2 separate regions of the Homo sapiens genome follow, and region 2 is linked to region 1. The links come from fine-mapping of genetic effects on gene expression. A gene starts in region 1. The other region holds a variant in brackets. All regions are shown on one strand. Distances are between the middles of the regions.

The links. PIP is the estimated chance that this variant, and not a neighbour inherited with it, causes the effect.
Region 2: its variant is fine-mapped to the expression of MTARC1 in fibroblasts (GENCORD, PIP 0.95).

The regions. Positions count from the first base shown.
Region 1 is chr1:220,779,838-220,795,507 of GRCh38, forward strand. MTARC1 (mitochondrial amidoxime reducing component 1) reads left to right here and starts at 7,076. Exons shown (of 7, transcript NM_022746.4): 1 at 7,076-7,382; 2 at 11,654-11,827. The coding sequence starts at 7,108. MTARC2 (mitochondrial amidoxime reducing component 2) reads left to right here. Exons shown (of 8, transcript NM_017898.5): 5 at 181-242; 6 at 331-402; 7 at 1,941-2,095; 8 at 4,082-4,978. The coding sequence ends at 2,064.
Region 2 is chr1:220,744,463-220,760,132 of GRCh38, forward strand. MTARC2 (mitochondrial amidoxime reducing component 2) reads left to right here and starts at 3,860. Exons shown (of 8, transcript NM_017898.5): 1 at 3,860-4,341; 2 at 10,485-10,658. The coding sequence starts at 4,070. LOC124904516 (a long non-coding RNA gene) reads right to left here and starts at 4,353. Exons shown (of 2, transcript XR_007066884.1): 1 at 3,357-4,353; 2 at 1-2,301. The variant C/T (reference allele first, on the strand shown) is at 7,217.

The DNA of each region.
Region 1 (15,670 bases):
TGGACCTGAACTTGCCAGCATTCTGCCTCCCTTTGAGTCCTCTGGGAGATATTTCTTGGTGTCACCTTGTGCTGCTTTCTTCTGCTATAATAGTTTCATACTTAATATGAGCCAAAGAATAAACAGACTCAAAGGCTAATGAAGCCACCATTTAAAAGATAACTTTCTCTTTTCTCTTAGGATACCTGGGATGAACTCCTAATTGGTAGTGTAGAAGTGAAAAAGGTAATGGCATGCCCCAGGTAAGGAGCCTAGCTAGACCCCAGGACTGTGGTGTGGCCCATTCATTGGTTCCTAAGCATCACCTAACCCTTGGTTACTGCATAACAGGTGTATTTTGACAACGGTGGACCCAGACACTGGAGTCATAGACAGGAAACAGCCACTGGACACCCTGAAGAGGTAGAATACCACCACAGCCAGTGTATTTTAAATATTATCTCCACCCCAGAACTACCTATGGGTTTAGGTGCTATGTCTGCTTTAGGGAAGATATGACCTTTCTCTCCGGAGAACCTTCCAGTCTACCTTCTGACTGATTCGCGTCTATTGGTTAATGAGAGCACTGTTGCTTCCTCTCTTTTTCTGGATGGATCCTCTAGTGCTTTGGATAAACTTTTTTTTTTTTTTTTTTGAGAGGAGCCTCACTCTGTCCCCCAGGCTGGAGTGCAGTGGCGTGATCTTAGCTCACTGCAACCTCCACTTTCTGGGTTCAAGTGATCCTGCCTCAGCCTCCTGAGTAGCTGGGACTACAGGTGTGTGCCACCATGCCTGGGTGATTATTGTTATTTTTAGCAGAGACAGGGTTTCACCATGTTGGCCAGGCTGGTCTCAAACTCCTTGCCTCAGTGATTCGCCTGCCTCCCAACATGCTGGGATTACAGGCATGAGCCACCATACCCAGCTTTGATAAACTTTTAATTCTATAATACTACATTTTGAAATTTTAGTATCTCTCATATCAATTTTTAATACTATTTATATATGTCTTTCCAAATGTAGGCCTTAAACACTTTATTTAATCATGTTTATTGCAACTCAAATTCCTTTATTAGAATCAATATCAAGGAATATGAGAATAATTGAAACTGCATAATGAAATATTAGAAAAAAATGAATGTAATGAGTTGTCAGAGCTTTTTTACCAAGGAGCTTCTTTTATGCTAAGGATTTCTCTTTTGTTTTGTTATTTAAAGAAGTTTGGCTGACTTTAGTTCCCAACGAAGATAGTGATTTAGGCTTAACATTCTTTGGAGCTGTATTCTATTTTGTTTCTCTTTCCTCTGTTTTGTGGATTGTTTCCAATGGGTTTAGCTTAGAAAAGAGGTTATTTCATGATGACTTCAGATTTACAATTCTATTTTGTTTTTGATTTTTAAGATGTAGTGATAATTATTTAAGATGCTGTGAAAGTTATTGTTTTCTTTAGACAGGACACTGGAAAAAGATTAACATCTGCAGTAGTCCAGACCCATCTGCCAACTTCATGTCTGTCTGAATTTTTGTTCACCAGTGAACCCCAGCTTTGGGCTCATAAACCTGGAGGGGGTTGAAAGCATGGTGCTTAAATGCACTAAACAGAAGATTTGTAGAGTTCAGGGCCATTCCATTTTGAGTTTTAGGGGCATTTGTTTCAATGAGTTGTGAAGTTGAAGGTACCCATATAGACAAAGTATTTATTTTATACTTACACATAAGTTTTTTTCTTTTTGGACTTAAACTGAAGCCATGGAGAAATTGCGTAGACTTTCAGGATACTTCTAGAAAAACTAGAATTATTTGCAGTTTGACTAATTGTCCACAGACTTCTCTCGCAACATTTTAGAAAATTCTTGCTGTGTATTTATAAATAACTTGGAAGGCAAACTTGAGTTCTATTGAGAATACTTCGATTATTATTTCCTTTTTGTGTCTGATGATTGAATTTTTGCTTGTTTCAGCTACCGCCTGTGTGATCCTTCTGAGAGGGAATTGTACAAGTTGTCTCCACTTTTTGGGATCTATTATTCAGTGGAAAAAATTGGAAGCCTGAGAGTTGGTGACCCTGTGTATCGGATGGTGTAGTGATGAGTGATGGATCCACTAGGGTGATATGGTAAAGGGTCAGCTTTGCTTCTGAATACGCTGTCTTGAAGCCATTGCTGCATTTTCTTGTGTTAATTTTTTTTATGTTATGCTGCTTTAATTCTTGAGAGAATGAACAGTTTTATATTCTGATCTTTGGAGTTGGAAAATGCCCTTAATTTCTGTTCCCTGCAGTAATTTGTGTACTCCTACCTCAGCCTTCTCCACCCCTATTTCCCATTTAATGGTAAAATGCTGATGGAAGAGGCTCAGCAGAAAGACAGGTATATGTTCACAGCTCATTACAGAATATCATTAAGGAATAGGGAAATGAAGGTGATTGATTCTCAGAGTTATGTACATTCTCAGAGTTATGTATTTATTTTTTCTGTCTCAGATAGAAGGGAAAATGTTTAAATTATTCAACATCAGCTTGGGAAATGTTTAAATTGAATGTCTTTTATCAAATGTATTTTTAAAGTATAATTGAAGTTTGAAAAAAAATCAGTGCATCATGGTGACTGGGTCCTGAATCATGAGTTAGAAAATAATGTTCTCACATTGATTTCATTGTGTCCAATACAGCCCTCACTCCTGGAGGCAAAAGCCTAACTCCCAAATTAAAGGAATGAGAAAGTTGGACAGAGGACCTCAAATTGGAGATTTTAAGCAAGTTTTCTCATAAAATCCATGACCCAGTTCTTTAAGTTACCTCATCTCCAAAACTCTTGACCATCCTTCTCTCTGATTCTGGCCTGAGCTTCTCACGTGTGTTACTTGCCTTTGTAGTCTTGACACCCACAACCTGACCCTCCTTAAGGACAGTGTAACACAGTGGCTTAGAAGGTGTAGATCTAGCATTAGATAGACTTGGGTTTGTAATCCAAGCATCTTCCTAACTTGGTTGAGATGTTTAACTTCTCTTTAAGTCTCAGTACCCTTATCTGCAAAGTGGGAATAATAGTACTTACCAAAACAAGCAATAAAAGTTATCTTGAGTATTAATTCATATAAAGTTGCGCTGCAACACAAATAAAGTGCTCAGTAAATATCAGTTATGTTTTTTATTGCCATCATTCCATCATGATCCAGTCTTAGGTTCCATAGTGGGTATAAAGATGACACAGGCTTTGCCTTTGAGGTGGGCAAAAAGGAGCTACACTTCTATTGATGACTGTTATGACTAGGTATTTGCATAACCATAACCATATTTCATAACATATTTCATCCGTTCTGAGATCCTATTCTAACATCTCTGATATCAGTCAGCTTCTTATAACATTCAGGATGCCTTTTGAAAAATATCAGTGATGCATAAAATTATCAGTGATGCATATAATAATGGTGCATCTTACAATTGGTATATCTTGGATTTGATGAAATACAATAAGTATTAATACTAGAGGGGAAACTGTGAAGCTCCTAAGTACCTGGCATTTCTAAAAGCCCCATTTGGGGAGAGTGGACCCAAGCCTGAGCCATCTAGCTTGAGTGAAACTGATCCTGTGTCCTGCTGTTCCAGTCATGATTGACTGGACCTGGATCATTGTGTGAGCCAAGGGCTTTCATGTGTTCTCTGCATCTGAGGGAGCCCAATGGCTGTGAGATACCATAACGATTGAGGGTTTTCCATATCACTCCGTCACAAACTCATCCAATCAGATCCTGTTTTGCAGTGGATGGAGGCAACAAACATCTGTGGTTCACTCAGCCTCAATTTCCAATTGTCTCTGCTGCCCAGAAGGCCTTGTGTAATCTTTATCTGTGAGAGGATCTCTGTGAGATAGATATGATAACAGGCACTTTATGGATGAGAAACAAAGGCTTAGATAGGTCAGCTGACGTAGGGCCTGGGAGCTGATGTGAGTTAGAGCTAATGGGCCATGCTTTCTGCACAGCACTGCACCATACATTTATATGTGTAACCTCAATAAGTGACTGTTTTGTGGGAGTTTGAATTATTTATGAACAGTAGGATAAACAACCAAATAACCAGAGATTCTTATTATTTATTCAGGCTTCAGCAACCAGGAGGGATTGACTGAGATCTTAACAACAGCAGCAACGATACATCAGCAAATCCTTATTATCCAGCCTTCAACTATCTTTACCCTGGAAAACAATCTCGATTTTTGACTTTTCAAAGTTGTGTATGCTCCAGGTTAATGCAAGGAAAGTATTAGAGGGGGGAATATGAAAGTATATATATAAATTTTAGGTACTGAAGGCTTTAAAAATAATTAAGATCATCAAAAATGCTATTTTGAATGTTATCATGGCTATTACACTTTTACTTCCTGACTTTAATATTGATGAATAAAGCAAGTTTAATGAATCAACTAAAAAGCTGCAAAAATGTTTTTAAAATGTGTGCCTTTTATTACCTATCAGTCTATGTTTTGGGAGAAATGGGAAGCAACAGATCACTGTGTCCTGATGTGCAGGACGCATGTTACCACACTCACAAATGCCTAATATTGGTCTTTATGTGGCCATTGAGTCCTGTTGACTTTCCACTCATGTGCTTTTTACTCTAGCATTATGGAATCTGGGCTGTACTTGAGTATGGAAATTCTCTTATAGACTTAGTTTTAGTACTCTATTACACCTTTACTAAGCCACATAAAAGTAATCTGTTTGTGTGTAACTGCCAGATATACCACCTGGAATTCCAAGTAAGATAAGGAAGAGGATGACATTTAAAAGAGAATGGAATTTTGAGAGTAGGAATGCAAGGAAGACAGCATGAACATATTTTTTTCAGTGCAAATAATTTTTTCGTAACAAAGAAACGAACAACTTTGGTATGATCTTAAGCAAAAATACTCACTGAAATAGTATGTGGATGAATTCACCTACTTACAATTTTATGGTTTCTTTGTAAATAATAAATGTGAATCTCAATCCTGCTTTATCTTTGGTATTTATGAGTCTTCTTCCTGGGTTTTTCTCTTTATATTAGAATTTGAGTCACTGCAATTTATTTTTCCTTACCCTTTCTGATTGCCTCCAGAGATACAATCTGACTCCACAAACACTGGCTTCTGTCATTGGCAGGGGGCGAGGGCGTTGTGAGCTGCAGGCACACAGGTGGCCTGTCTGTGGCAGGATGGCCAGTGTCCGCAAGGGGCCTTCCTAGTGGTCAGTGAGGAGTGGCTGTTCCCTCCTCCTCCATTTTCCTTTGCTGGGTTCTGGGACTGAAATTCACCACCATTCCCCGCACCCTGTGAGGTAAAAGTGGTAAGTGAGCTGTAGGCCTGGGTAAATTCTGGAAGTGATGAAATTGAAAAATCAGAACTTCAAAGTCAGCCATTAAAATAGGGAAGCCATTTTTTCCTCTTAAATTTTCAAAGAGGAATTCAGGAGGGAGATAAACAGAAACGCACATTTGGTGCCCCGGAACTGCCTTTCCGAGGAGGATCAAGTCGTGCCTCCTGCTGAGCTGTGTCCTTTACAGACAAGGTGTGACCTGGGGTTGGAAGAGAAGAGAATAGAGCAGAAAAACAGGACAGATAAGTGTTCAGGCCAATAAAGACAGAGCCTCCCTGAGCACTGAACTGCTCTGCAGTGAGTTGCCAGCTGGAGGAAGAGTGTTGTTCTTTTCTCTTGGCGAACTCCCGCTTCTCATCCATGCACCCTTGCCCTGCATGGGCAATTCTGGCTGAGTCTTGCAATGTACACTCCTGGCTCAGGGGACCATGGCTGAGCTGGGGATAACACAGACTCTCCTTGACCAAACTTCGGACTCTCCTGTGCCCTTTTCTTCATGAGGCCTTGACCTTGCCACCCTACTCCCTGCAGAGCCCAGTTTAGCAAGAATCCTGCTTAGTCAGTTTCCAGAGTATTCTCCCATCCTTAATATCTGATCACCCTTGATGTCTGCTCAGATTCCTCATATGTCACCCTCAGTGTGTAAGTCCTTGCCTTGTTCAGTAGAATCCTGTTAAGTGGGTTTATCAAGAATCCTCTACACTTGATGTCTCCGCTTAGTGATTTTCCATTCACTGACCCCGAGGAACTTCGCTCCTTGGCTATGAATCCTGAGCTGTCTTTGCTGTAATACAGAGTTGAGCCTAATCTCTTTCCCCTATTGTGATGCCCCTGTTACAGTAGCCTTGAATAGTCTTCCTTACCTTTTTAACAAGCGTCTGAGGGAATTTTTTTCCTTTAATAGCTTGGTACATCAAGCAGGAGCCTGACTCCTAAACCACGCTGTTCGGGGTATGCTAACATTGTTGTCTGGAATATAACCTGATTTGGAAGTGACAAGTGACTGAGGTGAGTGCCTGCAGGACCAAGTGACTTTCCCTCCCGCCGGAAGCAGCCCGGGGACCTTGTGCAGCGTTAAACTGAGCCAAGGCCCTTGCCAATGCAGCTCCAGCTCGAGGCTCCCCGCCGGTAGGAGTCGAGCGTCCCCGAGCCGTGTAGAAGGCACTCTCAGACGCCCATTGCCGCTCCCAGGGGCCGCCGGGAGAACTCTGGCCTTGGCTCGCCGGCGCGGAGGGCCTGGTAGCATCCTCCTTCATCAGACCCCCACTCTCTGGAAGCTCCTAGCCCCTGGGCAGACTGAGGGGAGGGCGGCGGCAGCAGAGAGCTGGACACTGCACAGGCCAGGCAGGGCCTACCAGCTCTCCACTATTCCCAGGAGAGGCTGCTGCCAGCTGTCTGATTTCTAATTTCAAAATCACGCTTTGTCCTGCAAATGTTGTATATTGTTTATTTTAGGTCAAATAACCCCATAAATACGTAAGTAAATAAATTGGTCACTTGCAGCGATCGTGGGGTGGGGGAGGGCACAGCGCCCTGCAGCGCAGGCGACGGAAGGTTGCAGAGGCAGTGGGGCGCCGACCAAGTGGAAGCTGAGCCACCACCTCCCACTCCCCGCGCCGCCCCCCAGAAGGACGCACTGCTCTGATTGGCCCGGAAGGGTTCAGGAGCTGCCCAGCCTTTGGGCTCGGGGCCAAAGGCCGCACCTTCCCCCAGCGGCCCCGGGCGACCAGCGCGCTCCGGCCTTGCCGCCGCCACCTCGCGGAGAAGCCAGCCATGGGCGCCGCCGGCTCCTCCGCGCTGGCGCGCTTTGTCCTCCTCGCGCAATCCCGGCCCGGGTGGCTCGGGGTTGCCGCGCTGGGCCTGACCGCGGTGGCGCTGGGGGCTGTCGCCTGGCGCCGCGCATGGCCCACGCGGCGCCGGCGGCTGCTGCAGCAGGTGGGCACAGTGGCGCAGCTCTGGATCTACCCTGTGAAATCCTGCAAGGGGGTGCCGGTGAGCGAGGCGGAGTGCACGGCCATGGGGCTGCGCAGCGGCAACCTGCGGGACAGGTACGGCCAAGCGCCGGCGCGGGGCAGCGCTGATCCGGCTCGGGGCAAGGGGGTGAGAAGGGAGGAGCGCAGGGGAGGTCTGCAGAGTCTGCTAACAGGTCCTTCCTCCTATTACAAAGAAACTGGGAGTTGGGTGAGACAAGGCCAAAGAGAAAAAGGAACCCTCACCCCCCAGCATCAGACCCCAGGGCTCTGGGACTCTGAGCGCGTGGACCCGTTTTCCCGGGGTGGGCGGATCTCCACCTCCCACTGGCTCTTTGGCGTCATGTGCTCCTGCTGAGGTGTGGTATCGCTCCCAGGTGTCTGCCAGTGAGCAAACTTCTTAATCTCCATTTAGTGGAGGCGGCTAGCTTGAAGAGGTTGGTTCCCAGTCGCTATTTTGAGTGACTTTCTTGAGATCTTGGAGAAAGCTGAACTGTAGAGTCCAGCCCTCCAAGAGCGCACCAAGGCGGAGCTCATAATAGTAATGACAGCAGTTCAACGAATACCTTCGGGCGCGGTGGCTCACGCTTGTAATCCCAGCACTTTGGGAGGCCGAGGCGGGTGCATTACCTGAGGTCAGGAGTTCGAGACCAGCCTGACCAACATGGTGAAACCGCGTCTCTACTAAAAACAAACAAACAAACAAAAAAACAAAAATTAGCCGGGCGTAGTGGCGCGCACCTGTAATCCCAGCTACTCAGGAGGCTGAGGCAGGAGAATAGCTTGAACCCGGGAGGTGGAAGTTGCAGTGAGCCAGGATTGCGCCACTGCACTCCAGCCTGGGCAACAGAGCGAGACTCCGAATCAAAAAAAGAAAGAAAGAAAGAAAGAGTTGTGGGGGCATTGCAGATGCTATTTTCCCCAATTCTCTCCAATGCTCTCAAGCACTCTTGTGGATAAAGAAGTTGAATTCAGAGCCACACAGCAGCAGAACCAGGACTCTTATTTTCTTTAGCACACTGGGGCTTTGTAAAGAGTGACTTTGTTAATGTCCTGTCTGGGTTCTGAGAGCTGCGTGGATTCCTGGGGTTCAGCGAAGGCTGCAAAACCCGGGAGCCGGCAGCTTTGTCCTCTTTAGGGTCTGGCTTCAGGCCAGCCTCGGGTCTTATTGTGAGGCTGCACTTGAAACTCCTTTCCAGAGCAGCCCTCGCAGTTCAGCAAGTAACACAGGACTAATGGGAGCTGTAACCTTTCTCCTACCAGCTCCCCAGACAGAGGGCAATTCATGACATAGTTGAAAGGTGAGTGACGTATGCATCTTTGCTTCAGGAAGGAAGCCAAGAATCCTAAATATTCCATGTTTTGGGCCAGGCGCGGTGGCTCACTTCTGTAATCCCAGCACTTTGGGAGGCCGAGGCGGGTGGATCACAAGGTCAGGAGATTGAGACCATCCTGGCTAACAGGGTGAAACCCCTTCTCTACTAAAAAATACAAAAAATTAGCCGGGCTTGGTGGTGGGCGCCTGTAGTCCCAGCTACTCGGGAGACTGAGGCAGGAGAATGGCGTGAACCCGGGAGGCGGAGCTTGCAGAGCTCCACTGTGGCAGAGATCTCGCCACTGCACTCCAGTCTGAGCGACAGAGTGAGACTAAGTCTCAAAAAAAAAAAAAATCCATGTTTCGTATAGTAGGCTCTGAAAAGTGGTAGAGTTTTTGTAGGCCCCAGAGGCAAAGGGCACTGGAATTTTACTACTTAGATTCAAAAAGCAGTTTTTGAGCTCATATTACAATAGATGACAAGAAGAGCTGGCCTTTGTACCAGACACTATGATAAATTCTTTATTTTCGTTCATCACACACTCCCAGAAAGTGTGATCAAAAGAAGCCAACACTGGCTTACAGTCCTAGGTTGTGACTAGACTAAACAGAGGTTGTGACACGTGCCAGGGTGCCAGCATAGAGGATGCGACACGTGCCAGGGTGCCAGCATAGAGGATGCAGTGCTGGAAGCTGGCTGGGGCCGTCAGGGACAACATCAGAGAGAAAGTAACAGCTTGAGCTGAAAACTGGAAAACGATTCAGAACTTGCTGGGCAAGTAAATTGGGAGAAGAACTTTCTAGAGAGGGAATAAGCTGGGCAAAGACACTCGGCTTGTGAGGATGGGGTATGCTAGGGGAAAGGCTGGCATAGTCAATGCCAGAGGGGTCCAATCTTTTGGCTTCCCTGGGCCACATTGGAAGAAGAATTGTCTTGGGCCACACATAAAATACACTAACACTAACAACAGCTGATGAGCAAAAACAAAAACAAAAACAAAAAAAATCTCATAATGTTTTAAGAAAGTTTATGAATTTGTGTTGGGCCTCATTCAAAGCTGTCCTGGGCCACGGGTTGGACAAGCTTACTCTAAGGTATTTACCAAAAGGAACTGGGACATAAATAGGATGAATGTTCTTTGCAGCATTGAGTGTTGAATGTTCATTATGATGTTATTCACAGTAGCCAAAAGGTGGAAACAACTAAGTGTCCATTGATGGATGAGTAGATAAGCAAAATGTGGTATATACACACAATGGAATATTATTCAGCCATGAAAAGGAATGAAGTTCTGATATGTGCTACAACATGGATGGCCCTGGAAAACATAATACTAATTGAAATAAGCTAGACACAAAAGGACAAATATTGCATAATTCCAATTATATGAAATGTCTAGTGGATAAATTTATAGAGACAAAGTGGATTAGATGTTACTGGGGGCTGGGGGAAGGGGAAAACGAGGAGTTATTGCTTAATTGGTACAGAGTTTCTGTTTGGGGTGATGAAAAGGTTTTGCAAATAGTGGTGATGGTTGCACAACACTGTGAATGTACTTTACTGCCACTGAATTGCACACTTCAAAATGGTTAAAATCACATTTAAAAAATTCCATTCTCTGTTGATGGACACTCGGGCTGTTACTACTTTTTCAGCATTTTGATTAAAGCTGCAATAAACATTGATACACAAATGTCTGTTTGAGTTCCTGTTTTCAGTTCTTTGGGGTCTATACGTAGGAGTGTGCTAGGTATTTTATGTTTTATATATATTTTACTGCAATTAAAAAATAAATATATAAAAGACTGGCCTGTGTGAAGACCTCGGGAGGTAAGAATGGCTGGAGCAACAGCTGGATCATGAAGGGCTGGGCACGCCCTTGTTTAGGAGTTGGTTTTATCCTGAAAGCAGGAACCATGGAGGGATTTTGAATGAGGGGGTCATAAAGTTAGATTTGCATTTTAGAGCGATGTAAACTGCCATTACCAGGAAGAATATTAGACAGAATATTCACCTGCTAGTCCCAAGGATTTGGGTCAGGGCAGGCCTCTGTCTGTGCAGAAACAAAGTCTGGTAAAAGGGCAGTTACGGAAAGGGCTTATACTAAGCATATTTTTCTAGTGTAGCTGAACAACTCAACCATGATAACCTGCTGGAAGTGATGCAAGAAATATCTTGAACGACCTAAAGTACCGGCCATATTTTTTTCTTATGTCTGGAAATCTCAAAAGCACATGCTCACTTCTATAATTGTAATCATTTGATCAGTGTGTACTGTAAGGATTGAAATGCCAATATGTTTTGCTTCCTTGGTAGCTGAGAGATAACCTGCAAAAACATGTTGTTCTTGTTCTGGAAATGGCTCTTTCTATTACCTTTATTTCTCCATTTATCTTTTTTTCTAGGAAGTACCTGTAGACCAGGAATACTGGGCCAGAAGAAAAAAATACTGTCTAGTTTAGCAAATTGCAGAATGGACAGCACTGAATGTTGGAACATAAAATTTTTAAAAGGTGGGGGGCTGGAACTGGCAGAGTATAAGTGGCACTGTGTGTTGCTCAGCTGAACTCCATGCCCTGTGAACAATATAAGCAACAGTCCTGCTATTTCCACTGACAAGAGCCCGTTGCCTACCAGATGCCAGGCCCTGTGCTTCCTCCTGCCTTTGAGGTCTTCATGTAAAATAGATTCTTGTCATCTGCTTGGGGCATGTTTAATGAAAGTGATCAGGCTTTCTAGAGATTGAGATGAAAATATAATTAACATCTTTGATTTCTGTGCCATCAAAGAGCTCAAACTGTTCTCCAGATATATGTTGGATGCTTGAGTGGTTATGAAATCCTTTGAAATTAAGTGACAGACTCAGTCCTGTGTGCTGATGTTTAGGACAGACAGACACACACACTCAAACTCACACACACCAGGCTTATGGGGAAGAAATCAAAGATGACAACAGTGTCTAATTGAAGCTCCTCCAGGGTCTGGCTTCCTGCCATAATGGTTCACACATATCCTGTGTTTTGAAAACGGCAGGTTTTGGCTTGTGATCAACCAGGAGGGAAACATGGTTACTGCTCGCCAGGAACCTCGCCTGGTCCTGATTTCCCTGACCTGCGATGGTGACACCCTGACTCTCAGTGCAGCCTACACAAAGGACCTACTACTGCCTATCAAAACGCCCACCACAAATGCAGTGCACAAGTGCAGGTAAGGAAAGGGCAGGTCGTAGCCCTTGTGTGAATGAATAGTCATGCAATTTTGAGAAAGCATAAACTCTAGAGGGAATGCTGAGAAACATATCAATAATGAACCGTTGATTGCATGTGTACCATATACAGAATGAAGTCCTCAACATTATGAAGATCTAAAAGAAGGAGAAAGAAGGAAGCAGCTTCAGAAACTTGTGTTGTGGAGATGACAGACATGAAAGTGCTATGTAGAAACCCATGAGAACAAAAGCATATTGACATGTCAGCAAGAGAAAAATAACAGCACCCAAAGATCAAGCACAAAAATGGGGTGGGAGTGGTGGGGGCGAGTGTCCTAGCAGAGGTGAAACTCGATCTACGTATTCTCATAGAACTTTTTCTTCTTGGCTTAGAAAAACTGGGCACCTTCCAAGTCTGAGTTAGGAAAGGAGTTGCAAATGGCTATGTGACCCGTAAGATTTAGTTCTAATGAAAGGAAGTTCCAAAATAGAAAAGAACAACTCTAGCTAGAAGAGTGATCCAGCCAGCGGCTGCCCAGGGGTCAGTGTCAGAATGAGGCTGGGGATGTAACCCAGGAGGATGTTCTGTACACAAGCCCTTCCCTCAACATCAGAAGGGCTGCAATGAAGCAATTCTTCTAGGAAAACTAGTTTTGCCTCCAAGAAGTCATGTCTAGAGTTGATTTCTTATCTGATTATGGGAAAATTAGAGTTGGTCCAGTTATATTCTTGTTATAGTTTCTGCATTTGGAATAAAGATGCAGTGTGAATGTAGTTTATAGCCTATCATAAAAAAATAGCATCACCTCAAAAAATGTAGTTATCTGAACAACGTCTAAAGACCCAGAAAAGTTCACAAAATGCAATACTGATGTAATTTCTACATTTTAGAGTTTTAAACTTGATAATATACTTTTTTGAATTTGGTGGCTTTTCAGATTAGAAAAGTGGTACATATTCATTGTTGAAAATTTGGGAAATACCAAGAAAAAAAAAAAAAAGAAACAAAAACTATCTGTGATAACTAATTAATATTGCAGCATATTTTCTTTCGGTCTCTATGCCTACTACTTAAAAACTAAACTGAAATAATACAAAAAATCCTTTAATATTGTTTATATACTTAAATTGATATGTTGAGTATTTTTTCATATTGTTAAAAAATCTTTAAGGATACCATTTTTCATGTTGGCATAATATTTCATTTTGTGGGTGTCCTCTAATGCATTTTAATATGCCCCATGATTAAACATTTTGATTGTCTTAATTTTTTTCCAGGTATTAAGAAGAATGTGATGAATATCTTGGCATAAATCTTTGTTTATATCATTTGTTGTTTTCTTAGGGAAAAAATTCTAGCAGTGGTTTTGCTTGAAATAAGAATATGGATCCTGTAGGCTTTTGATACACCTTGCTAAATTGTTTGCAGAATGGTTTTACCAATTCCATTTTAACCATTATGTTAAAAAACATTTTGCCATTTTTATGGGCAAAAATGATAATTTCTTGTTAATTTAATTTGTATTTTTCCCTGAATGAGGTAAGCTTTTAAATACTTATATTGCAATCTGTATTTCATGTTTGTCCATGTCTTGATTTGTGTTTATTTGCCATGGTTAGATATTTACCCATATTTTCTTACAGTTAATTTTTTTGTTTAATTTTTAATTCATTTGAAATTGTGTTGAAACTTTTTTCACAGTCCCATATGGGCATTTGGTCCATGCCCAAAAGACTAAACAAGGGCATGCTTGCAAATTGCAAAATGAAAAGGCTTAGACATGCTACGGTAGTATACAGACTCTTCGAGCAAAGATTCCAAGAATCTTCTGGATTCAGGTTTCTTTTGACAGCCCAACCTATTCTCTTATGAGGGAGCTGTAACCTCAGCCCACAGTTTCCTAAAGATTTCGGATGAGTTCTTGGGGCGCTGGGGTCGTGATCACAGGCAGTACACCTGTTTTCATGGTCGAAGATGTTACTTGATTTTCTCACATGCCTTGCCTGCTATTAATAAGATACACAGAATTAGGGACTTTGGCTATGGATTATTCAGACAAACAGCCTCAAACCTCAAACCATCTCAAGCCATGCCTACATTATCTTTGTCAAAGGGTCAAAGGTTATAGGAGCATTTGGAATTTTATTTTAATTCTTCACTTGCACTTTTTGGGACAGTGTGCAGGTGGGGTGCTGGGGCCAAGATACAGCAGAGGCCAATCAGAACTCAGGAGAAATGTGGCAGGAGCAGGAAGAAGGCAGAACAAATTCTACTCGTTGAAAGGCCTCAAGTTCTGGGTGATTATGAACCTGAACCCCAGGATCTAGAAATAGATGTTGCAATGGAAATCAGTGTCAGATTAGCAGGGCAGATGTTTAAATGGCCCAAGATAGATGCAAATGCTTTGACTTTGTAAAAATAATTATTGCCAATTGAAGCCCCAAGGAGTCAAAGCAGCCTTCCTGTCTATATCCTCCACTGTGTGTGCCCTCCCACCCTCCTATAAAAGCAACTAAGGGAAGCCCTGGGCTGCCAAATGGCAAGTTGAGACTGAGAGGGTGCCTTGGTGGGCTGTAAGGGTTTGACTGGAGAAAGGAGGGTGATTTTTTTTTTTTTTCTCATAGGCACCAGCAAAGAGACATCTAACAAGGAGATGACCTTCAAGGCTGTCTCCATACCTAGATATTTGGTAATGCTGGCATTTCACAAGATGCTTCTGAAATTAGCATTTCAGACATTAAACTGCACACACACACACACAGATGCTAAGCCCCCCACATATATTCAGTTCTAGAACTGGTGGATTTGATTTTTTGGGAAAAGTAAAAAATTATTTGGAGCTAAAGCCTGTGAATAAGAAAACGATAGGATCTTTTTTTTTTTTGGTTAAAAAATGAGGTTAGGCTTAAAAGTAGAAATAAGTAGATATGATTAATACTAGGTTAGAATGATTACTTCCCAAGGTGACTGCTCTGAAAGGTAATATCCATTTGGGTGTATAAATTTGGGTATGTTTATTTTATTCATTTTATTTATTTTTCATCTTGATCCAGAAAAGAGTAAGGCAGACACTCCTGGTCTTTGTAAATGGTCTCATTACTTCATAGGCCTTGGGTGCATATTTCAGCCCTCTGATTCTCAGGAGTTAATTTAGAATGGGTGGGGTGACAGTGTGTGAAAAGGTATCAAGTCATATACTACAGCAGTGTACTTTTCTGCATGAGTGTTACGCTTCAATAAAAAGTTTTTAAAAATTTATGAAAACTTTGAATACACCAATCTACTGCTTAATGTAACCCAGACACTGTTAGTAATGACTTCTCATTTTAGATATAAAGCAATAAAATAAAATTATATACAATTATATAGGATACTATACTCAATATATTTTACAATATAAAAATCCATTTATACATTATTATTAGAGAATGGATGCTTTTGTTGGATTAAATGTTTGATTTATGGAGTAACTATACAAAGATAGCTTGAAATAACTTGGTTGGGGGACCCTGGGTCATTACTACCTACTGAGCATATCCCAGTCCTAAGAATTGTTTGGGGACTTCTTACGGATTGTTCCTAATCCTCACAACAAAGTTCTGCTTCTACCCCCATTTTATTGATGAAGAAACTGAGTCTCAGAATAAGAAACTATCACCAAGGCCATGGAGCTAGTCATTTGTGGAAATGGAATGCTCACCCAAGTAGATTTACTTGATCCACTAAGCTTTCTCAAACTTCCAGCATTTGCATAACACCACGATGATAGTAGGCCAAACCATAAACCACCTGTACTCTTGTTTACTTAATATTTCTCTTTAAATTGATTCAGCTTATAAAC
Region 2 (15,670 bases), 35 kb before region 1:
TCCCCAGGAAAGACAAACTGCTACATGGCCCTGATGAATACTTCCATTGGCTGCTGGGTACTCACCTTCCTGAAGAGGACCTGGCTAAGCAAGGTAATATTTGGGTTTTAGGCTTCTTTTTTTCTCTGGTTTCTTGGTTGATATTTTAATTGACAGAGTTTTCTTTATCTATGTCAGTGCCTCTAGGCAGACAATGATGTCTTATTCACTAGAAAGATTTTTCCTAAGCAGAAGTTGCCAAAATATGACAAACTAGGGGAAAAAGTTATGACTTGGGAAGGCATGATAAAAGGGTAATTTTCTTAATTTATAAAAGGATCTTATAAATTAACAAAAAAATAGATAAGTTGATTCAAATCAGAAGGGAAAAAAGATATGCAAACAGCCAATTAGACTCATGAATCCTCAACCTTTGATATGGTTTGGATCTGTGTCCCCAACCAAATCTCATGTTCAATTGCAACCCTCAGTGTTGGAGTTAAGGCCTGCTGGGAGGTGATTGGATCATGGGGCTGGTTTCTCATGGTTTAATACCATTCCCCTTGGTGCTATCATCCTGAGAGTGAGTTCTCATGAGATCTGGCTGTTTAAAAGCATGTGGAACCTCCCCCCTCTCTCTGGGTCCTGCTCCTATCATGTAAGACATCCACTGCTGCTTTGTCTTCCACCATGAGTAAAAGCTCCCTGAGGTCTCCCAGAAGCAGAAGCCGCCGTTCTTCCTGTACAGACTGCAGAACTATGAGCCAATTAAACATTTTTTCTTGATAAATGACCCAGCTTCAGGTATTTCATTATAGCAGTGTGAGAATGGACTAATACAGCCTCTCATCACCCCTCACTAATTCTACAAATGAAGATGCTGGGCTGCAAATGTACACATTACTGATAAGGAATTTCCCTGCTCCCCTGAAGGCACCCCCAACCCCAGCATTGGTGAAGCTTAAACAGGGCAGGCTATGATAGATAATGGCTGGTGAAGACAGCAAAGACTTGGCAGCACTCACCATGGCAAAGTTCCTCACTTGATGTCTATCCCCATCATTTTGCACATGAGGAGGTGGAAGCATGGAAAGGTCAAGTTACCCATCTATCTAGGTAACTATTTCTTCTTTGATGTCTCAAAGATACCTCTCACTCGCTGTTCACAATAGGCTCATCATCTTTTTTCCCAGACTATCTTCTTCTCTTGAATTCTCTTTTTTTTTTTTTTGAGACGGAGTCTCTCTCTGTCGCCCAGGCTGGAGTGCAGTGGCGCGATCTCGGCTCACTGAAAGCTCCGCCTCCTGGGTTCACACCATTCTCCTGCCTCAGCCTCCCAAGTAGCTGGGACTACAGATGCCCACCACCATGCCTGGCTAATTTTTTGTATTTTTAGTAGAGACGGGGTTTCACTATGTGAGCCAGGATGGTCTCGATATCCTGACCTCCTGATCCGCCCACCTCGGCCTCCCAAAGTGCTGGGATTACAGGTGTGAGCCACTGTGCCCAGCTTCTCTTGAATTCTTAATCTCTGAGAATGGTACCCCCATCCCACCCCAGACTTTTATGCCACAGAGCCAGGAGGCCCCGTGGGCTCTTCCTCTCCCTCTGGCTCTGTGTTCTGTCATCACTATCTCTTGTTAATTCTGTCCCCTGACCATCTCTCCTAACCACATGTCTATCTCCAGCCCCACTGTTATTTTTCCTTGATTTGGAATTACATCAGCCTGAACTAGGGCATTTGCAACTCATCTAACCATCTTTGGTGTTACTCTTTCTCAGAGCAGCCAGAATGGCCTTCCTAGCACCCAAGTCTAATCATGCCAGACTGTTGTTCAGAATTCTGAGGTGTCTCCACATTAAGTAGAGATAAGATGCCTGTTGATCTGACCTCTGCCCACCTGTCCTGCCTCAACTCCCGCCACCTGCTGCATGCACAGGTACATCCTAATACAGCTGGATTGCTGGTGGTTGCCCAAACATGCCACACTCTCTTGTTCCTTCCATTTTTTCAGGCTATTGCACGTGCTGCTCCTTTTGCCCAGAATCCTCTCCTTTACCCATCTCCAAGCCCCTCCTCATGTTCAAGTCTCAGCTCCAAAGCTCCGCCCTCTGAAAACAGCACTGTCCTGAGATTCAGCTGCTCTTTTGCCTCTGCATCCTCTGCATCTTGACCTTGCTTCTCCTCTGACATTATCCTCTAGACTTGCAGGGGAGGTGTCAGTCTTCTGGGGAGTCAGTGAACTGGATGGAAGGGCAGCTTCTTCTAAACTTTAAATCCCCAGTGCCAATCTAGGACGAAGCCTGGTGAATGATCAATATCTATGTGGTGAAAGAAAGAGATGATTAATCAATAAGACATTTGCCCTGTCTGGGAGCTCACGTATAGCGAGGCGATGGCTTTGTAAGCCCCTCACTCTGACAGCAGGCTTGTGGGCAGGGAGGACTCTGACCCTCCTCAGGAGTTGGGAGAGGCAAAGGGGGTCAGCTACAAGTGTACACACATCACATTCACCACACCATGCTTAAAAAACAAATCCATAAGTCGCAGCTGCCAAGCATGATGTAAATGTATGGGGATTGAGGGACTAATTCTGCTGGCCTGAGGTTTTTTCCTGGGTGGGGAGAGATTCAGGCCCTGTTTTGTCTTTCACTTTTCACAAGGAACAGCCAAAGGGAACCTGGCTCCTCTGGTTCTCCATCCTTCCCGGAGTCTCTTCCCACACTCCAGAACGGGCCCCTTTCTCTGGAGGTGGCCAGCCCAGATTTGGGGGGTGGCCCACTGGTTGGCCTCCTTAAACTTTCCTAGAACTGTGCCACAGTTTAAGGGACAAACTTTTGAAAAACAGAACAACAACAAAAAACTTGAAAGACTTCAAACCTTAATTTGTCTGAGAAAATCCACTGTTAACCCAATAGCTTGCTTGAATGGAGGTGTTAAAGATCAACAAAGCCAGACATTAGTTAAACCATGAAAACAGATTTTACTCAGTAACTACTTACAGTAGGAGAAAAAGCTGATCATTCTCATTTGTGCATAGCAGAATGGGCGTTTTAAAGGGTGAAGGAGAGAATAGGGCCGGGAAGCTAGCAGGGGATCAAGTGAAAAATCATGAAGGGGCGGTCAGTATTAATGACGGGCAGCTGTGCCTGGAGCTGGCCGTTATGAAGCTGGGATTCTATCCTCCCACAGAGACTGGGGGACAGAGGCCTATCCTCCCCATGACTGCATTTCAGAGCAATGGCTTTCAGGTCCTTGAGAAAGACACTTCTGAGGTGTAGGCGATACATATACATCTCAAAGCAACAGAGAAAGGATTCACAGTTGTAAGCCCTTTTAAGAAAATATCCTAAAAAAGGGAGGTCAGGGGCTTTACCATCGGGTGTTGGCTAGAATAAACGGGGAATTCTCCTGGCTGCCTTGAGCTTTCTCGGGAAGACATTTTACTGGGGTCGAGGTTAGGCGGCAGCGGAGGGTGGGGGACCTTGAGTCATGCTCCTATAAGCCACGCTAGAGTTCCTCGTCTTTGAGTGCAGAGGTTTAGACTGTGTCTTTGTGTGCAGAAAGTCCTGCAGTTCTCACAGCGACCTGCCAGAAAAAGTCGTTCCCAAATGTTTGTAAATCCTCCGTTGGGCAACCCGCCTTCACGTTCTGCGGTGATCTTGTCGAGCGACTAAGCGTGCAGTATTAGCAGAGAAGGGGGTGGCAGAGTGCTGGCGCTGAAGGTCATGTTGCATGGGTAACTGTCGTGTTGTAGGGGCGGGGAAGAGGGAGGAGACACTGACCACCCCAGAGGCCGCCCCATTAGCTCGCTTGCTTTGGGCGGCGTCGCTCCCACGGCGCCCAGGGTACCCCCGCCGCTGTCTGCCTGTCTTCCTCCATTACCGCGCAGGCTTGGTCACCGCATTAAGGCATTCCCGCTCTCCGCGGAACTGCTCTGCCGTCTCGGCGGTGAAAGTGTGAGAGGGTCCGTAGTTGGGTCAACTTTGACTCCTCTCGCCTGCCCGGATCCTTAAGGGCCTCCTCGTCCTCCCGGTCTCCGGTCGCTGCCGGGTCTGTGCGCCGGTCCGCGCCCGCCCTCGCTCTGCCATGGGCGCTTCCAGCTCCTCCGCGCTGGCCCGCCTCGGCCTCCCAGCCCGGCCCTGGCCCAGGTGGCTCGGGGTCGCCGCGCTAGGACTGGCCGCCGTGGCCCTGGGGACTGTCGCCTGGCGCCGCGCATGGCCCAGGCGGCGCCGGCGGCTGCAGCAGGTGGGCACCGTGGCGAAGCTCTGGATCTACCCGGTGAAATCCTGCAAAGGGGTGCCGGTGAGCGAGGCTGAGTGCACGGCCATGGGGCTGCGCAGCGGCAACCTGCGGGACAGGTACAGCACAGCGCGGGCGCGGGGCAGCGCGGAGCCTGCCTGGGATGAGGAGCGGGGGGGCAGGTGGGGCCCGATCTATCTGGGAAGGACTATAGAGGTTTGCCACCTGAGTTTCTGGGCTGACTGTTGGGCCGTTGGTCGTTTATCTGGGAAGGCCAAGTTCATGCCAGGTTTATTTTTGGTAAAGTAGGTAGGGGCAATCCCTTGCCCTTCCCTAGACGAGAGATTCCTCCTCTGTAACAGGAGGGGGTCTGACCTGTATCTCCAAGTCTCCTTAGCTCTAAAGTTTGTGATTCTATCCTAGTATACCAAAGTAGAAAAATAAAGCTATTGGCACTAGAAAGCAGCAAGAAAGAAACCAAGTGTTGTTCAAGGACATTGGCTTAGGCCTTGCTGGGCCTTGTTCCTCACATTTCTCCAATCCTGGGGGTGCCCTGGAGGCCTGATACACTTTGATGAAGGATGAGCAAGTGGCATGGGGACTCTGGGGCAGAGGTGATACTTGCCATTAAGGGAATAGTGTCCCCCCTTCTCCCATAGGCAGAGTTGTTCACAGCCTGGAACTTTGGGACTTTTGGGCCTGACACATAGACATTTCATACTTAGGATTAAGATGCCTTCTTCTTTTTTTTTTTTTTTTTTTTTGAGACAGAATCTCACTTCGTAGCTCAGGCTGGAGTGCAGTGGCACTATCTCAGCTCACTGCAACCTCCATCTCCCAAGTTCAAGCAATTCTCCTGCCTCAGCCTCCCAAGTAGCTGAGATTACAGGTGTGCGCCACCACGCCCGGCTAATTTTTGTATTTTTAGTAGAAACGGGGTTTCACTCTGTTGACCAGGCTGGTCTCAAACTCCTGACCTCAGGGAATCCACCAGCCTCGGCCTCCTAAAGTGCTGGGATTACAGGTGTGAGCCACTGTGCCCAGCCAAGATGTCTTCTTATCTGGCCGAGATGGTTTAGCTGTGGGCCTGTGTCCGAGGGGAGGGAGGTTTGCAAGTTGATCATTCAAGGATTCCTCTAGCAGAGAGCCACCTGCATCCCTGTGTTCACTCCAGGACACGCGGATGCACTGTTTTCTGAAGACTGCTGCCCTCTTAAAGAAATGTGGACTTCCATGGTGTTGGAAAACTTCAGAGAGTCTTAGAGAAGTGTTGTGTACACAGACCATATGAATCATGGGAGGATTTTCATTCTCCCACCCTTACCCCAGATTTCTTATCCTGGAGAGCTTTTTCAACTATAACTTCCTGAGATTCCCATCCCAGGACTACGGAAGCAGAATCACCAAGAGTGGGGCCAACTCGTGTAGAATGTTTAAATCTCCCCCTGGTGATTTTGATGCTATAATTAAAGGATTTTATCCGAGACCATGAAGAAGAAGAGGATGTTTAGAGCTTATTCAAATATGAAGGATAAGAAAAGCCTTCCTATTACTGGAAAGACTTCAGGCTGTGTGGGACTGGACACCTTCCAAAAAACTGGGAGAACCAAATTCTCACGATGCATGTCCAGAGAAAATTAGTGTTGCAGGCTAGGTTGCACTACTTCCTTCCTCGCTTGAAGGGTTGGTTTCACAGACAGTTTCCAGTTCTAATCTGCGTTTCCTCTGATCACCTGAAGAACGGTTTCTTTCCCACTTCTCTTTGTCACTGCTTTGCCATGACTACTGCAACCATGGAAAGAAAATACGTGTCCTTTGCCTGTGCTTTTTGCTCCCACTGGCATCCTAAAATAAATACAACTGTATTACCTTTCCCTTGTTTTAAACAATAAACGCTTAGGATGGGGTGGGGTGATGTGAAGCCTGGGGTAGAGGGAAAGGCAATGAAATTAATGTTATTCAGTGTTAAAATGCAGCAGACACTGAGCTAAATCCTGTCGCATAGATTAGCATATTTAAACCTCATAACAATCTTGTGGGCTAGATAGTATTATCACCATTTTGCAAATAAGGAAACAGTATCAGAATGAAGGAGTATCCCATCCAAGGCCAGAAAACCAGTGTGTGCTGTGGGGATGTGAACTCAGATCTGTGTGAGTACAGAACTTATGCTGTTTGTATGAAACCAGTGCATGATATAAAACTATAAGGATTGCACTGAGGATCAGGAGACTTTGGGCGAACTTCTACAAAGTTGTCTCATTTGCAAAAGAATGAGGTTGAACTTCATGGTCTCTAAAGCCCCATTTTAACTACATTTTATTTATCAAAGCATAATTAACAATTTGAAAGCAGGCTTGCTGGAGAGAACTCTGTTTGATAGCCGCTGTCTTCTCCACCTGACAATTTAATAACACTACTACAAATGTTCCTAGAGTTCAGGGAAAGGCCTCATTTAATGAATTCCATTCTGAACCTGTGTCTTTGGAACTAACTGTTCCAAGGAGCTGGGATTTTCCTCTGGAAGTGCTCTGGGTCTCAAATTTCTAAAGGTATTTTGTTCAAAGCTCTTAGTATACTTGTGAACACTTGGCTTGAGCACCCTAAGCATTGAGTGTTTAAAGTCCACCTGGCAGAATGCTGGCATTCGGTGCCTGGTGCAGTTGCTGGGAGGGCGTGCTTGTCCTCCCTGACCTTGGAAATCTCTGCTCTCCTTAGCAGCCATATGTGAGTTGATCAGTTTTATCTCTCTAAACCCTTACTGAAGCCAGTCCTTTATTTCTTCTGCACAAATGATGAACTGTTGGAGAAAGGAATCCCTTAAGTTTATTATTGTCCAGGGTGTTATTCCCTGCCCAATTCCTGCTGTTTTTCTCCTCCCACACTCAGTAGTAGAGTTCCTGCTTTCCCTCACTTTTCAGTCCTTCCTGCTCCCCAGGCCAGTTTGTAATTGAGAAATGATATTTTTTTCTGTTGTTTTGGGCTCCACTTACC[C/T]GTTGCTGTTGGTTGTTCGGGGCTCTATAGCTCTTTTGGGGAATCGGGGCTCCAGGCTTCTACACTGATCCCTCTACCACATACTCATGTTTTACCTGTGAATTCAAGGTGCTGGCTTTTAGTGTTGCAGACTAGGTTGGGGTAACTTGGTTATGATGAAATCTATGCTCCAGACTTATCTCTTCTTTCAGATCTGGCAGAATAGAACTAGTTATTCATTCACTGGGCATCATTTTGTGCACAAGAGGTGAAAAATAATATTGCCCAGGTTGACAGGGAAATGAGATGGTTGGGGTATGTTACAAATGGTAACCTTTTAACCTGTGATTGCTGTATTTGTCCTGTTCCAAAATTGGACTCCCTGTAAGTTGCCAGTTTTTCAGTGACAGTGATGAGTGGGAAACCTCTAGTGACAACTTCCCACTGTTAACCTCAGCAGTTAACACCTGTATTATTATACAACAGTCTGGAGCCACAGGCCAGGCTGTGAGCCACGGTGAAGGGCGACATTAATAAGGGATGAATGGGAGATGAGAAGATTCAGCCCATGGAGAAATAATGTCAGAAATAATGTGCAAACAGGTTTGCCACTCCTGTTTGGACATGGCTCTGGTTGTGTGCAGATCTCAAAGGGAGTCTTGTCTGGGGAAGGGGCATGTTGGAAGTTAAGGGTGAAGGCTTTAGTGAGGCTAACCAAAGAAATGTGCACCAAGGGACAAGGCTGGAAATAGGGAATAGGGCCCAGCCCTGTGAGGCATCTAAGTCAGTGGATGCCTGCCTATTTCACTGTAGCCCCATTCTCTGGGCAGACATCCTCAGATTTACAGAACCCAGCCCCAGGATGAGTGAGCCAGAGAACTGTGGGATCTAAAGACATCTTTGACCAGGCAGGATGGCTCACATCTGTAATCTCAGCACTTTGGGAGGCCAAGGAGGGAGGATTAATTGAGCCAGGAGTTCCAGACCAGCCAGGAGGTCCAGACCACAGTGGGACCCCATCTCTACAAAAAATAAAAAGATCAGTTGGGCGTGGTGGTGTGTGCCTGTAGTCCCAGCTACTCAGGAGACTGAGGCAGGAGGATCGCTTGAGCCCAGCAGTTCAAGGCTGCCATGAGCTAAGATCACGCCGCTGTACTCCAGAGCCTGGGTGATAGAGTGAGACCCTGTCTCCCTCTCTCTTGATATTAATTAAGTATAAATATATATAAATGAATAAATAATACACATATGCATATATACACTTAGGAAATGGTGGGCTGGGCACGGTGGCTCACGCCTGTAATCCCAACACTTTGGGAGGCCGAGGTGGGCAGATCATGAGATCAGGAGATCGAGACCATCCTGGCTAACACGGTGAAACCCTGTCTCTACTAAAAAAAAAAAAAAAAAAATACAAAAAATTAGCCGGGCATGGTGGCGGGTGCCTGTAGTCCCAGCTACATGGGAGGCTGAGGCAGGAGAATGGTGTGAACCCAGGAGGTGGAGCTTGCAGTTAGCCGAGATCGTGCCACTGCACTCCAGCCTGGGTGACAGAGTGAGACTCCGTCTCAGAAAAAAAGAAAAAAAAAAGAAAGAAAGAAAAAGGTGGTCTCCTCAGTGGGGTGGGGACTTGCTGCTACCCAGTGTCACCAGCTTTTTGGAAGCAGGTAGTCAAGACAGTTACTGGAATGCCTTTACACTGCCACACCATCATAATGCCAGTTAGCAGAGCACAGGCTGCCAGCCATTGTCTTCTGGTGTGGTTGCGGGGAAGGGACAGTTTAGCCAGCACCTGGAAAGGACTTTACGGATAAGGAGGTTGCAGATGTAAGACTATCTGTCAGGGTCAGGACAGGGCAGAGACGGAGCTCCCTGTGCTGGGATATTGGATGTCCTCCTGAGGTCTCCTCAGCCTTTCCCTGATGGCTCTGGTCATATTTTGGAATGTCTCCCTGGGAGGAGCCGCCCCTGCTTCTGGAAGGGGCTGTGCTTTTTATCCTCCTCACATTTGGAAAGCCTCTGGCTTTCAGACAATTTTTACTTATCAGTGCCTGCATTTTCCTCACCCGCTAGTCTGCAGATTCTATCTTCTTTCTAAAATAGTGATATTGGGCTAGGCACAGTGGCTCATGCCTATAATCCCAGTACTTTGGGAGGCTGAGGCGGCAGGTCACTTGAGGCCATGAGTTCAAGACCAGCCCAGCCAACATAGCGAAACCCCATCTCTACTAAAAGTACAAAAATTAGCTGGGCGTGGTGGTACACACCTGTAATCCCAGCTACCCGGGAGGCTAAGGCAAGAGAATCACTTGAACCAAGGAGGTGGAGGTTGCAGTGAGCTAGACTGTACCACTGCACTCCAGCCTGGCTGACAGAGTGAGACTCTGTCTCAAACGAAATGAAACAAAACAACTAAACGAAACAAAACAAAATGAAACTAAACTGTGATATTGAAATTTATTTTCCCTAGGAGTGGAAGATTTTTTTCTTTTTGGCAACACAGTCTTTTGTGTGGTACAGCCCCAACCTATATGCTAGGCTGTAGGTAAAAGCCTAACCAACTGGGCCTGGCCAGCTTCCCCTCACTCTTCAGCTCATCCCATAGAAATACAAAGTAAGAAAACCAAGTCCAGTACAGTGGGCTCTCTAGGAAATAAGTGGGATTCTTATCTAACATGTGACTTCTGTGTGTCTTTGTTCTCTATGTCAGAATGTGTGCATGAAGAGGAAAGGCTGTTTGGGAGGTTTCCTGATGTAGGACCCCCGCATGCCGCGGCAAGTTAAACAGAGCAGAGGCTGGCCTGGTTCCGCTTGGAGGCAGCAACATTGCAAGACCTTTGTCTCAGACTCAAACTCACTTGGCCAACCTCATCTTGTTCTACAACAAAAGGACCTGAAAGCTATTTTACTTCTCCCAGGGCCACAGAGACATATTTAACAGACCTGCAGAAGCTTCTAACCAAAGCAGAACCCCCAGACAAGCAGCAGGGTTGACTAAGCAGTGAGGGAGAGTCTCTGAGCCAGGCTCATGTTCTTGTTTTTGAAACTGGAGATTGCCATACATCAGCCAGACACTCTCCCAGAACTGTTTCCGCCAAATAAGCTCTTTCTGGGGTCACCAACTTTTAGACCCAAATCATTTGGCCAGACCTGGATAATTGTCTGGAAAATGATTGTTAGGTCCCAAGACGGGGTGGGTGGAGAGTTCTGAGGAAGTAGAAAGCTGGAGGGAAGCTGTTGGGAGGTGGAAGAGGATTTTCTGAGTGTGCCCTGGTTTGTTTCTCTGCAGGTTTTGGCTGGTGATTAAGGAAGATGGACACATGGTCACTGCCCGACAGGAGCCTCGCCTCGTGCTCATCTCCATCATTTATGAGAATAACTGCCTGATCTTCAGGGCTCCAGACATGGACCAGCTGGTTTTGCCTAGCAAGCAGCCTTCCTCAAACAAACTCCACAACTGCAGGTGTTCCGCTTGGGGGCATCCACAGAACTGCAACAGGCTTGGTTTCTCTTCAGGCTCCTCCTTGCATTCTGTCTTGCTATAGTTTCTACAGTAGAGGATGACATTGGTAAAGGAAACATTTAAGAGAAGTGCAGTTTGAGTTGGGATTGGGCATGAGTGGATGATGCAGGGTATTGTTTTCAGGGTACCTAGGATTTGTTTTAATCAGGTATGGTTAGACACGCAGACATAGAAATGACTGTCCTGAAAAAAGAAGATGTTATACCAACAGATTCTCTAGAAACTGGAGGCACGCTACGCCACGCAAGGCCAAGTGGGGGAGTACCAGGGTGGGTCAGGAGGCAGAGGGAGCAGGGGGAACATGTGGGCAAGGGCTTTTATTGTGGTTTCCACAGGAAAGGAGAAGCAAGGCAGGGGCGGCAGGCTTAGGGCTGGCTAGTTTGAACAATTTCAGCAGGCTCTGGGTCACAGGTTGTCTGGTACTTGGCTCTAGGGTTGACTAGGGCATGGGACTAGTGGCCCGGCATGTAAGCACCAAATAAAGGAGGTGACTGGGAGTGCAGACTCTGGATGGGTTGGTGTTCCTATTACAGGCACACTTGCAGGTCATCAGTCTATTATTTCTAGGAATTGGTCAGCCCTGGAAGAAGCAGTTTCTTCAGTGTCAACAAGGCTCCAAGATGTCAAAGCGTAAAACATGCAGAAAATTAAAAGCAGGATTACTACAAGTATAAAGGTGGTACAATGTGCTCATCTTTAGGGCTTTTCTCCTTTCATTCAAATCTTCATTCAGAATTGTCAACTCTCCAACCAGGCAGACAAGGGAGTTAGTGGAGACTTTAGCAGCTGTATCTCAGGGCTGGGTGAGAAGGATGCTGGAGCTTCCAGAGCTTTTCAAGTTGACTCTGCGGCCTCTGAAGTGTGTGGTTGAGATGAAGACATATTCCTTGGGTGTAAGGGATTTCCACTTCTGGCCAAAGACACACCTCAGGCCTTGGCTTCCTTTTGGCCTATGGGACTTCTGTTGGGTTGTCAAGTTCCGTGGTTTGCTGGGGTCTTGTCCTTCCACATTAAGAAGACTTAGATGCTTGTCATGGGATGAACTGGATCCCTTGTCACCAACTGAGCTTGTTAAGTGTGTGGAAGTTGGTGTTGTCCCAGGGCTCAGAGGGGAGCCTCAGATTACTCCGTGAACTCTCATCTTACGCTTTTTCAAGCAAAGCGTCTAAGCTGAAATCCACAACTCATGGTTCCCAATTTTCAAAAGTCTGAAGCAATAATTCACTGAATTCAGTATTTCAGGTAATTATCTTAGCAAGCCCATGAGGGGGTCATTAATTCCACTTTACAAACGAGGAAACCACGTCTTAGATCACTGCCACGAAAACACAGAGCTGGGATTTGAACCCACTTCCCTCCTAAGGCTTTTGCCTTTAACGTGTTTGTGTAGGGAGAAGAAAAGCTTTTCCATAAATGACAGGTTTTGAGCCCATCAGTTCATTGAAGAGGAAGTGTGTAGCCATCTCGGCTTAATTGGAAGACATGTGAAGGTGATGGGTAAATACGTAGCTGACATGTGTCACATGAGTAATATAGGTGTTGCCCTGTAGACTCACTGTGTTGCCAACAGTGAGCAAGTTTTTCCCCCAAGGCTCTTTACCAGCTAAATAGGCAGAAATCTAGGGGGACACTCACCTTCCTGGATGGAAAGAGGGAAAGAGGAAGACCTTGCAGGTGAGTTGCCTGGGTCTGAAAAAGACAGCAATTGCAGCCTATTCTTTTTTATTTATTTATTTTTTGAGACGGAGTTTTGCTCTTGTTGCCCAGCCTGGAGTGCAATGGCACGATCTTGGCTCACTGCAACCTCCACCTCCCAGGTTCAAGCGATTCTCCTGCCCCAGCCTCCTGAGTAGCTGGGATTAGAGGCATGTGCCATGACGCCCAGCTAATTTTGTATTTTTAGTAGAAATGGGGTTTCACCATGTTGGCCAGGCTGGTTTCGAACTCCTGACCTCAGGTGATCCACCTGCCTTGGCCTCCCAGACTTCTGGGATTGCAGGCATGAGCCACCGTGCTCAGCCTGAAGCCTCTTCTTATGTAATTCTGTTCCATGCATGAATTGTAGATCTGGATGAGGTGGGAATAGAGAGCCTGGAACCCTGGCAGTTTGGTGAAAATGATTGAGAGCTGTGCATTTGGATTGATGCAGAGGTGTAGTCAGCGCACTGCCCTCTCTAGCTGGTTAGACATGCTGTAACTAGTTCAGCCTGTATTTATAAGCTATTTTTAATGGATTCGTTGCCAAGGGAACTGCTAAAAACTGAAGAAATAACATAGATAGTGTGTTTAGCTAGTGCCAGCTGCTGTGACAAAATACCATAGTCTGGGTGGCTTAAACAACTGACATTTATTTCTCATAGTTTGGGAGGATGGGAAGTCTAAGATCGAGGTGCTGGTAGATTGGTGAGGTCCCTTTTCAGGGCTGTAGATGGCCACTTCTCGTTATGTCCTCACATGACCTTCCCTGGTGCCTGCATGAAGAGAGAAAGCAATCTTGTGTTTCTTCCTCTTATAAGGGTGCCAATCCCAGCATGAGGGCTCCACCTCATCTAACCCTAATTACCTCCCATAGGCCCCACATTGGGGGTGAGGGTGTCAACAAAGGAATTCTGGGGAGACACAAACATTTAGCCCCTAACAGATGGTAAGCGACAGAGTGATTACCACAGCCAGCCCACCAGAGCCCAGAATCAAATAACATAAACCAACAACCTCAAGTTAGTAAAAAGAAAAGTCCCTTCACAGACATTTGGACAAGGCTGAAGTGTTATGAATTTTATATTATTCTACACTTATTTTATTTTATTATTATTATTATTTTTGAGATGGAGTCTCGCTCTGTCACCCGGGCTGGAGTGCAGTGGCGCGATCTCAACTCGCTGTAACCTCTGCCTCCTGGGTTCAAGTGATTCTCCTGCCTCAGCCTCCTGAGTAGCTGGGACTACAGGCGCACGCCACCACGCCCAGCTAATTTTTGTATTTTTAGCAGAGACGGGATTTCACCATGTTGGCTACCATGGTCTCGATCTCCTGACCTTGTGATCCACCCGCCTCGGCTTCCCAAAGTGCAGGGATTACAGGCATGAGCCACCACGCCCGGCCACTTATTTTTTTTAAACTTTCACTGTTAGTGTTTTGAATCAGCTTTCCCTGTTCACCTTGTGTGGTGTTAAGTTTTTTTATACTAATTATAGACCAGTATGGCTTCTTGATTATCACAAGTATTTATGAATAATTATTACCTTTTTTTTTTTTTGAGATGGAGTTTCGCTCTTGTTGCCCGGGCTAGAGTGCGATGGCACGATCTCAGCTCACTGCAACCTCCATCTCCCAGGCTCAAGTGATTCTCCTGCCTCAGCCTCCTGAGTAGCTGGGACTACAGGCATGCACCACCACACCCGGCTAATTTTTGTATTTTAGTAGAGGTGGGGTTTCACCATGTTGGCCAGGTTGTTCTCGAACTCCTGACCTCAAAGTATCCACCTGCCTTGGCCTCCCAAAGTGCTGGGATTACAGGCATCAGCCACCGTGCACGGCCTGATTATTGTCTTAAAAGGTGAAGCTAATGTTTTAAAGTAGGGGGAAGTAAGACATGACTTCAACCCTATATTGAATTTGTGGTTCAATTTACAGAAAATTGATGTGAAAATATGTGTGTGTGTGTGTGTGTCTGGGTGTGTGTGTGTGTGTATTAAATAAAGCACTTGCAAGAGGACCTGGTATACAGTAAGCACTTAACTGGATATTAGGTCTTAAATAGCTATTATCTTTATTGTATTAATCCACCTTATCTATGAATATTATTTTTCTTCACTTGTTTGTGTCTTATCTCTTTAATAAAGTTTTATAATTTTATCTGTAATGTGATTTTACATGTTTTGTTAGATTTAGTCCTAAACATTTACTCTTTTCTTCCACTTTTACATAGCAAGTCTTAAAAACACTTTTTTTGTTTGCTGTGTAAGATTGGTATTATTTATTCTTTAATTATTGATAGAACTTGCCAGTAAAAGTATCTGGATTTTCTTTGTAAGAGTCTATTCAAGTTTTTATGTCCTCTTACATAATTTTTAGTGAGTTACTTTTGATTAGTGAGTTAAGAGATTGCTTACTAATGAAGTTTTATTGAACCCAGAGTGAGGGTCAGTTTTTTCTATGGAATGTTGCTGATGAGACATTTTGTGTCAAAATGTAGAAGAGAGTGGACTTTGCAGAAAATTCTGCAAGAATTGGAGAAGATGGCATGGCAGAGGGAGCGATACCATCCAGTGCAGGGATGGGAGACAGGGCTGGTGGAGGGATGCCTTCCATCGGGGGGAAGGGGCTCCGGTTAATCAGTATTCCATTGCCCTGTTGGGGGCTTTTCTGCTTTTCAAAGTGCCACCCATAAGCTTTCCCGGGTGGGTGGAGACTGTGAGTAATATGTGTGCACTTATGTACAAGTGCTGTTCTGAGGGGATGAGGGAAGAGCTCCATCCAGGAGCATGTACTTAGGGAACTGCTGAACAGTGGGATGGAATCAGTTTTAGGGGAAAGGCAGAAGGCCAGGAGAGGATCATGAGATGTCTGTAGAGCCAAGAATTAATCAGAGGTGAAACAGTGGCTTCGAGAAGGGGGTTTAGAGGGAAGGAAAAGGCCCAAGAAATGTGAAAGGAACAGCACTGAGATTTGACAGTAGATAGGAGAGGAGGTGAGAGGTTGGGAGTCTCTACCCTCAGACCAGGATTGTGAGTTGCAGGGTACACAGGGGTTCATCTAACTGGGAGCACCTCAGGTGTCCACATTGAAATCCTTCACATGCATCGCCTCAGGAGTCCTCACACTGGTATGAGCCTTCCCACGGGGAGGGGCAAGCCCTTCCCATGGTAGATGAGGGTAGGGGAATCAATTTCCAGATCCTGTGAATTATATCTACAATCAGCAAGTTCTCCGGTCTCACCATAAACATTTCT